Linked DNA regions of Homo sapiens: region 2 is linked to region 1. The links come from fine-mapping of genetic effects on gene expression. Tissue or cell type: whole blood. Region 1 holds a variant in brackets; the other region holds the start of a gene. All regions are shown on one strand. Distances are from middle to middle.

What was found. PIP is the estimated chance that this variant, and not a neighbour inherited with it, causes the effect.
Region 2: CASC8 starts here. The variant in region 1 is fine-mapped to the expression of CASC8 in whole blood (TOPMed, PIP 0.93). The same link has a PIP of 0.9 or more in blood mononuclear cells.

What each region holds. Positions count from the first base shown.
Region 1 is chr8:127,672,784-127,677,935 of GRCh38, reverse strand. No RefSeq gene overlaps it. Among named protein-coding and RNA genes, the nearest start is that of CASC11, 59 kb to the left of the region's middle. The variant A/G (reference allele first, on the strand shown) is at 3,154.
Region 2 is chr8:127,479,400-127,484,551 of GRCh38, reverse strand. CASC8 (cancer susceptibility 8) reads left to right here and starts at 2,413. Exons shown (of 6, transcript NR_117100.1): 1 at 2,413-2,918; 2 at 3,481-3,824; 3 at 4,746-4,848.

The DNA of each region.
Region 1 (5,152 bases):
GTTTCTTTAACTGTAGAAAGAGATAAAATTAGAATCAACCTCAGAGGGTGTTGTAAGGATTGAATGAAATAAGGCATGTAAAATGTCTTAGCATAGTGCTTTGGACTTGGTTAGTCCCAATAAAGTATTACTGTTATTATTGTAAGCATGTGCCTGCTCTTCTGAATGTTTTTAAGTTAGTACTTCTTTAGATTCAATGAGCACCTAATAAATACGTACTATGTGCCAAGCTCTTTTATACTCATTATATTGTGTAATCATCTGAATTTGTTGAAATGGGTGCTTCATCTGATTCTACCGATGAGAAAACTGGTTCTCAGAAAGGTTAAGAAATTTGCCTGGGTTATTTACAAGTTACAAAGCTTATAAGTGGTACACCTGAGATTAAACCGAGACAGACTGGTTCTCATCCCTCCACAACCCAGATGGAGCTAGAGTTTGCTCCTAGCTCTGCCACTGGGGAGCTCTGTAATATTAGGCAACATGCTTACCTTCTCTGGTCCTCATCATGTGGAAAGTGAAAAGACTGGATTATTCATGGTGAAGTAGAAGGTTCCTTGCAGGGGCGCCAATAATAACAGCTAGGGGCCTGGCAGGTATTTCACAAGTATTTTTACTGGACCTAATCAGGTTTCATTCAAGTCATCCTTAATTCAATAATTTAACAAGTATCTGTTGAACATCTACTATGTATCCAGCACTATTTTAATTACTAGAAATGATGCAGTGACTAAAACAGAGCAGGCCAGGTGCGGTGCCTTATGCTTGTAATCCCAGCACTTCGGGAGGCTGAGGCAGGTGGATCACCTGAGCTCAGGAGTTTGAGACCAGCCTGGCCAAAATAATGAAAACCCCATCTCTACTAAAAATACAAAAATTAGCTGGGTGTGGTGGTGTGTGCCTGTAGTCCCAGCTATTTGGGAGGATGAGGCAGGAGAATTGCTTGAGCCTTGGAGGCGGAAGTTGCAGTGAGCCAAGATCACCCCATTGCACTCTAGCCAGGGTGACAGAGTGAGACCTTATCTCAAAAAAAGGAAAAAAAAAAAAAGAAAAGAAAAAACCCAGAGCAAAGTCACTTTCCTTTCTGTGTTTATATTCTACTTGGAGGGGCTGGTGGTAGAGTGTTGGCTATAAACATATAACATATAAACATAAGCAAATATCTCAGGAACAGGAAATCAGGGAGGAAAGCTGCTCAGTTGAAGGCATGCTTAGAATGTTCCAGGAACATCCAGGAAACCAAGATGGCTAGAGTGTAGTGAACGTGAGGAAGAACGATAGGAGGGCAGAGTGTGCAGGGCCTCATGGATCACGGCACAGACTCTGGCCTTTGCCCTGGAAGGGGAAGCCATTTTTTTGGGTGGAGGTTCACCCAGAGGAATATCCTGAGACAATAATTTGAATGCAAGTAGTTTATGTGGAAAGTGATTCCAGGAAGCACCAGAATAGGTGTGGAGAGGTAAGACAGGAAAGAAAAAGAACCCAGTAAAAGGGGTAATATCAAGCTGGTTGCGATTGTAAGCAACTGCAACTCTGTCTTGCAAGGGACCACTGGGAGACAGTGTAGAGAATGCTTGCATGTCATCACCACCCAGGCCGAAGGACCTGGGAAACTGATCCACCGGCTCTCTGACCATTGGTGGTTGAAGGCCATGTCCAAAGGTGTTAACTATCTGGCACATTCTGTTTGCCCTGGACTTGATTATGTGTGCTTCTCCAGCCAGGAAAAGGGCCCTGAGGCAGAGGGTTGCAGAGCCTAATTGACTTGCACAGCTGAATGCAGAATGGATATGGCCAGGGCATCAATGCCTCTGTGACTCCATTGGGAGTTTTTGAGCAGGGGAATGATGTGATCAGATATATTTAAATGGGTCACTTTGAATGATGTGTTGAGAATAGGTAGGGTGGAGGGCAAAGGAAGAAGGAAAGGGAAATAGCTGAAAAATTATCACAATAATTCATGTAATGGTAACTTGGATCAGATGACTGCAGCCCCAGGTAGTGGAGGTAATATGTTTTGCTCACTTTTTTAGAAAACACATTTTTGTTTCAATAGCTCTTGGAGTACAAGTGGTTTTTGGTCACATGGGTGAATTGTTTAGTGTTGAAGTCTGAAATTTTAGTTTAGCTTACCTTTTGAATGGATTCTGTAAGCTCAATCAAAACTCATTGTTTTTAAGCATCAACGACTGTGTCCACCATAGGGCTAGATGAATTCTTACTTAACTTCTCTTCTTCTTCTTACATGCTTAGAATTGCAGCCTTGACTTCAATATGATGTATATTCAAACACCAGGCAAATTAGCTTATTTGTGCATTGACTACAGAAAACTCTGTTAGTCTTACTTTGTAGGAGTAAACATCAAATGCTTCTGACAGCGACACTCAAATGACATGCTAAGATTACATCTTCAGAAGTTTAAGAATATAAAGAAACATCTTGAATTAGAAAACAGTACCTTTTTGTTTATATAAGTAATGAGTTTAAGGATCTACAACAACTCAGTAGTTAGTTGTGAATTGCCGTTGGCTTCAAGGACATAATAACAAGCAGTAGGTATATAATACATATTTGTGGAACTGAATTGAATTGGCTTATAAGAAAGACATAATATTTAAATCCTTAGCTGTGAAGAACTTACCAGGGCTGCCTATTATTTTTAGAAGATTTTCTTGTCTGATCCTGCTCTGAAGTAGCTAACATTGGCTACATGTCTGCTATGTTCCAGGGACTTTACAAGCAGTATTTACGTTAAGTTCTGTGGTAGCCAGTCTTGAAGAAGGCCCCGGTGATCCTGCCTCCCTCCTGGTGTTCACACTTTTGTGTAGTCCCCTCCCACATTGTACCAGGGTGGGTCTATGTGGCAGAATTGGTGGTTTCTCACTTTTTTTTTTTAAAGGGCAGGGTCTCGCTTTTTCATCCAGGCTGGAGTGCGGTGACATAATTACGGCTCACTGCAGCTTCGACCTCTGGGCTCAAGCAATCCTCCCACCTCAGCTTCCTGAGTAGCTGCAACTACAGGTGCATGCCACCATACTTGGTTAGTTCTCTTTTTCGCAGAGACGAGGTCTCACTATGTTGCCAGGGCTAGTCTCGAAGTCCTGGACTCAAGCAAACCTCCCGTCTTGACTTGCCAAAGTGCTGGGATTACA[A/G]GCATGAGCCACGGCACCAGGCTGCGTTCTCACTTTTGAGATTAGAAATATTGGCAGCTTCCATTGTGTTCCCTCTTTTTCTCTCTTGGATCATTCACATGTCATGAGAAGCCCCAAGGTGAAGCCTACATGGTGAGAAACTGAGGCCTCCAGCCAGCAGCCAGGTTAATGGGTTTGAAAGCAAATCCTCCAGCCCAATCCAGCCTTCAGATGACTGCAGCCCTAGGTGACAATGTGACAGAGGACTCAGGAGGAACCCTAAGCCAGAACCACCCTCTCATCCATGCTTAGACTCCTGATCCTTGGAACATATGTGAGTTAAAAATGTGCTTGTTGTTTTAAGCCATTAAATTTGGGGGTAGTTTGTGTTACACAGCAAAGATAATTAATAGAATTCCCATAATAGTTCTTTGGAAATGGATATTGTTTTCTATATTTTTACAGTAGAGAAAAGCAAAGCTCACAGGGTGAAGGATAGAAGGACCATATAACTTATTGTTTAAACTGGGACATTTTGAGCATTAAAGGGATGTTCTTATTAATTACACTGAAACAGCAGGTGTAAACTCGGACAGTCCCTGAGTCCTGGCAGAGTATGGGGGAACATCACTTTACTTACGTAATTTAACTAGGGTCTTCAGCCACCAAGTATCAGAGTTTGGACTGGTCTGAAGTATGTCAGTTTCCAGAGTGTACACCTTCCTGCTGCTTCCCTGGCTATGTCCTAAGCACGTATCCAGCAATAGTAGAACTCCAGACATAAGAAGTGATATACATGCACAGCGTAAATGTATTTTGATAACTACATTTTTTTTTTTTTGAGACAGAGTCTCATTCTGTCACCCAGGCTGGAGTGCAGTGGTGTGATCTCACCTCACTGCAAGCTCCGCCTCCCGGGTTCACACCATTCTCCTGCCTCAGCCTCCCGAGTAGCTGGGACTACAGGTGCCCGCCACCATGCCCGGCTAAATTCTTTTTTTTTTTTTTTGTATTTTTATTAGAGACGGGGTTTCACTGTGTTAGCCAGGATGGTCTCCATCTCCTGACCTCATGATCCACCCGCCTCCCAAAGTGCTGGGATTACAGGCGTGAGCCATCGCGCCTGGCTTGATAACTACATATACATGTATATAAGTACAGGAAACAAACACGGATTAACACTTGGTTGTTTTTTTCATTGTGTCTTTGTGTGTATTCTACAATTATAAAGAAATGCATTCTTTTTAAGGCTGGGCACGGTGGCTCAGGCCTGTAATCCCAGCCCTTTGGGAGGCTGAGGCTGGAGGATCACGAGGTCAAGAGACCAAGACCAACCTTGCCAACATGGAGAAACCCCGTCTCTACTAAAAATACAAAAATTAGCTGGGCAGGGTGGTGCATGTCTGTAGTCCCAGCTACTTGGGAGGCTGAGGCAGGAAAATCGCTTGAACCCAGGAGGCAGAGGTTGCAGTGAGCTGAGATTGCACCACTGCACTCCAGCCTGGCGACAGAGCGAGATCCATTTCAAAAAATAAAAATGAAATGCATTCTTTTTAAAAACAAAAATCTCTTTAAAATATTAAGTGAAGAGCTCTTGGCCAAAGGTTTGGAGGAACTGCATGCATGCAGGTATCCCAGGTAGCAAGCTGAAGTTTAGAATTTGCCAGTGTGAGTCACAAACTAATGACCAAGCATCCTTGTAAAACATTCATGTTTTCATCTCTGGGTGGGTCTGTGTTGGCAAAAAAAAAAGAAGCTGAGGGCAGAGAAATTTCCCAGGAAATCTAAGATAGGTAGTTCTAGGATGAAAAATTCTATTAGGTTGGTGCAAAAGTAATTGCAGTTTTCCCTTTAATTTTAACAGTAAATACAGCAATTACTTTTGCCCCAACCTAATACTGTCTAAGCCCACAACACACACAATTGTCTGAGGACTTTAGGCAAATAAGGGCTGGTTTTTCTTTGTATTTCTGTCTCCCTACTGTATCTGTTTCTTTCTTGCTTCCTTCTTCTCTTTCTT
Region 2 (5,152 bases), 190 kb after region 1:
GTTCTGCCCCCATTTTTCCTTTTGCTCAATAAATCCCATTATTCTCACCCTTCAAATTGTCTGCGAGCCTAATCTTTCATGGCCTTGTGACAGGGAGCTTGTCTTTAGCTGAACTAAGGAAGAGTCCCACACCACACGCACACAATATAATGACAAAGCCCTCCCCACCAGCACTACTACTACTGCCAAGAACTGTCCTCTAAACAGTGTGACCCAGCTTTGTGGAGAGTTGGCCAGATGGGCGTCACCTGAGCTCAAGGACAATCTCCTCTGCTCTGGTCTTGCCTCATGCCCAAGCTGGATTTGATCCCAGGTCTCTTGACTTCCCTTCTTTCCTCCCTACTTATTCCCATGCTGGATTTGAGCCCAGGTCTCTTGACTTTCTTTCTTTCCTTCCTTTCTTCCTTCCTTCCTTCCTTCATTCCTTCCTTCCTTCCTCCCTCCCTCCCTCCCTCCCTCCCTTCTTTCCTTCCTTCCTTCTTTTCTTCCTCTAATGTCTATTGAGCACATATTAAATGCCAGCTTCCTTCTAGGATTTGGAGTTTTTCAATGAAAAAAAAAGTGGACTCCTGCTTTTGTGATATTTGAATTCTAGTGAGTGGACACAGACAGACTACAAAGCATAAATGTTATAAAGTGGTGAGGGGTGGTTGCTATAGACAAAAAAGTATAAGGGAGTGTAGGGGATATCAGGAGTTCTGGGGGATGATGGGATTGCAATTTCAAATGCAGAGGTTAAGATAGACCTCATTGAAAAGGTGACATTAGAGCAAAGGCTTGATGTCTATGTGAAGAGCATTCTGGACACATGGAGCAGCTGGTGCAGAGGACTGAAAGTGGAACATGGGTTGATTGTGGCTTAGCAATGAGGGGCAGTGCAGACAGAGGTGCAAAGAGGCATCAGGGGGGCCTAGTCATGAGAGGCTCTGCAGGTCATGGTTGGAATTAGATCTGGTGCTGTCCCTCTATGTTGTGGTCAGCAAGATGATTTCACCAGCAGCTTATTCAATATGCTTTCTAAGAAAATCATCATTTAACCAGTTAGTGTGGATTCTCCTGGCCAAATCCTAGTGTGCAAATATGCTGGAAACATTCAATCTTGTTTCCAGCAAGGCTTGGGATAATTTAGAAACTGTTCAATCAACTCAGTAAATATGAATTAAACATTTACAGTTGTATTAAATATTCGAAAGATAGGAACCAAAACAGTCTATCAAGTAATTGTACATATTTGTGCATTTACAAAATGCATATTCATGAGAGCTATGTAAATATATATTTAGTCATTTCCTCTTTCATGTGAAGTGCTATGGCTGAACTACAGATGGTAACTTTCTTGTGTCTGATTATGAAAATGGCACAGTAAAGCATTCTGACATTGTCCTTAGAAAAAGATCATTGTTTGGCCATTACCATGAGTTCAGTGTTCTTGGAACTAGGGAGAAGAAAGTTCTAGAACATGTCTGTTTTTGTGGCAGGCATCTAGGGAGGAAAGGCAGTTATTTCTAAGATACGTGGCTCTCATACTTTTTCCACCAAGGGTCACAAAAAGGAGGAGGTTTATGTGTAGGACATGCTGAAGTCCTGTGGGCTCTGTATTCCAGCCACAGTGCCACCCTTTCTTTCTCTGTCAGGAAAGCATAGTGGGAGGGTAGGGAGTGAGCATAATGACATTTTGGGTTAATATTTAATTCATTCTAATTTATTCAAAAACGTGTCTAACTTCTCATGATATCTATTAATACTAACATGACTGGCAACCCCTCACAACTGCCTCTGACAACTCTTGTGGGTCCTTCTGCCACATCTAAGGACTCTCTGGATAAGGAGATGGTGAGAGAACACACATTCTAATTTTGTCTTTGTGTGAAGGTCTTATGTGAAAATCTTTCTGGGAATTAGAGTTTTCTAAAGGAATCTCTATTTCCTAAGGTCCTGATACTCTTACTAGCATTTGCCAGTTAATTCTGTGAGACCCAAATGTGTGCAGGGCCTGGACACTTTATCTCATACTAGGTCTCTTCCTTAACCATCCACTATTCCCCAAATATTTACACAGGTGGACTGCGTAGTTAGACTGATATTTGTGTCAGCCTTGAAAACTCAGGATGACTCTCGAAGCCGACTGCTCATGAAGTATCGTTGCTTGGATCTCCTCTTTTGGAGACTAAGGGAGCTTGACTGTGTGCAAGTTAGCAATAAGGACTGACTACTGGATTAGGTGGACCACGTGAATATCATCTTGTGGTGGCCTTTTGGGATCTTCTGATCTCACTCAGAGTAAAAGCCAAAGTCCTCACTATGACCTAGAAAACGCTTTGTGATCTGTGCCCCCAGGTCTATGACTTCACCTCTAACTAATCCCCCTCACTTGCTTAACCTCCTTCCTCAATGGCCTCTCTGCTAGCTCCTTGAACCACCCCAGGCCCTTTGCACCTGCTATTCCCTCTCCTCAGCATGCTCTGCCCCAGACAATTGCAATGCTAACTTCTTACTTCCTTCAGGTTTCACTCAGAAATGACTTTCTCAGTGGGGTCTCCCATGACCATTTTATTTAAGATTTCAACTACTTTGCCAGTATTTCACTTCTCCTCCCTTGATCTTTTCTTCCAAGCACTCACTGCCCTCTTGCACACTGTATCTTTTACTTATTTATCTTGTTCAGTTTCTGCCTGCCTCACCTGCCTCACCACAGTGTACATTTCACGAGGGCAGGGATTTTGTCTGTTTTGTTGATTGCTGTAGCCCTGGCATCTTGGGCAGTGCCAGCACCTGTTAGCATTAAATACATATTTACTGAATGAATGAGTGGCTTCATGCTTAAAAGCAAGAAGAGAGACCTTCATAGAGAAGTAGGAAAATGAATTGTTGCACAAATAAAGGGCCATGTAATGAGAGAGAGAGAGCAAGAGAAAGAGGTGAGATGCTGATAGATTTTCCAAAAACATTCCAGTTCCTACTTCCCATCTTTCATGAACCAAGATTTTTACTTCCTATCCATGGGCTATCCCTAAAAATTCCATTTTCTTAGGCTACTGTAATAGGGCTTGTCTTTATTGCTACCAAAAATCTCTAAGCAAAAAAAAAAAAAAATAGAGTCAAACTAGAAGATGCTAATTGTTTTCTCAACATCCAGCATGTCTTTGGAGAATGGGGTTCTCATGTAGCAAACAGTTTTGTGGGTTCTCTTCCGTGTTTCCTTTCTTGGATAACTAGGTCACAGACAGCTGGTGTTTCCCATGTGGCAAAGGGAGCATGCAGAGAAATCCCCGCCTCCTCTCTCTTTGCTTTTCAAGCCCTGCTGAATGCCTCCTAATGATTTCATCTGCTCGGAGGTCTGCTGGCTTTTCCACTCTCGTAGAAGCTGGTGGCGCCGGGGGCTGATGCATGCTCTGACTACTGACTTGAAACATGCTTTGATGAATTAGTGCAACTCGGCCAGCCATTTACTTTAAATTTTACCCTTGATTCTTCCTCTAGCAAACAATTAAGGAGCAGCAGTGGCTTCCTGCAGGGGAGACCAATGCCTTCTGTCCTCAGCGGAAACAGCTTGGCATTCTTCCAATTGATGAATGGCATGGACCAGGAGCACTAGTTATCTTCAGCTTCTGAGCATCCGAATAAATAAACATACAAATGCATAACATAAAATAAATTCAAATTACAAATGAGAAAACCAATCTAGGTTACCGGCAAGTCCTATGACTTGATGTGGAGGCCTGGAAGTGCATCCTTGAATCTTGCAATGCAGTGAGCCAAGGAGCAATGAGAGGCCACATGAATAACCGGGCCAGTGACAAGACACATGTCCTCCTCCTTGCTGGGTGAGTAGCCCAGTCCAACCCCAAAAGCTCCTGAGTAAGAGGAAAATGTCTCTTTAACAGTATTAAGGGATAATTTATTATGTGTATCCTTCCAGGGAAGCACAATGTCAGTAAAGGCCCATTGCATTTGCATTATTTCCAGACAACAGCAGCAGCAGAAAGGGACACTGATTTATTTCAGAGCAAGCACAGGTGAATGTAGTGTCTGTTGGGAATGAGCCAGGGAGCACTTAACCCGTTCTGAGTCTTTCTAATGCTTTAGGGGGAACCATAGGTTTTTGGAATAGTTCTATTGGCTTCTTTGGTCAAATTCAGTGTCCCTGAGCCTGTGCTTCTCAATCGCTTGGTAATAAAAGCTCTTACAGGGTGGAGGTCAGCGAAAAAAATATGTTTAAAAACAGAAAATCTGGTTTTATGCCGTGGCCACGTTAATTTCTTTCCGTGTGACCTGGGCAAATAATTTAATCCTTTTACGACTCAGTTATCTCTTTTGAAAAATGAGTGTAATAATGCTCCCTGCAGGATTTTAATGAAAATCAACTAAGCAAATGTATTAATGAGTGACATATAATGAATTGTATAAATGACATTGTTTTGGTGTGACATCAATTTGGGATTCCTGGGACACAAACAGAAGTTTAGGTATTATCTTCAGGTATGGTGTCTTGGCTAGCTTAGCTAGCAGAGAGCTTTTTTCTCAGAGGAATCATTCAGTGGGAGGTAAAACAGTCACTCTTTGAATTCTGGAATTAGAGAGTTATGAAATTCAAAAGGTCATGGTAGAAAGTGTCTTGGAGACATCTCTTCCGAGCTTCTGTTTTGGCAGAGGGAAAAACTGAAGCTTAGGGAAGCAAAGTAAACTGTAAACATCTCGGAGGGTGAGGTCAATCTTAATTATCTTTGGTTGTTGTTTCTTATCAGTATACACCAGAATGCCCCGCATGCAGCGAATGCTCAAAAAGTGTTGGTGGAAGTGACAGAATTCCATCACCATTAAACACAACCAGTGTTGCGGTTGACAATGGTAGGTTGGAGTATTTTCTCTTCTGATCCAGATTAGATCAGAATTTGATACTATTTTAATATTAAGCCTTGAAAAGAATGTGTTTACTGGTCAACTGAGGCATCTTGGAAAGGGACATGACCCCTATAGAGCCAGAAACATCCTGGTAAATCCTCTAGTTTCAACTTCTGACAGAAAGTCCTTGAAGTCTTAAAGAACAATTCCTTTTATTAAACCTTCATACAATTTTAACTTACACAGTAGCACACAATTACAAAATGTTACCCAATACATTACCTTATTTAATTCTCCTAATGATCTGGTG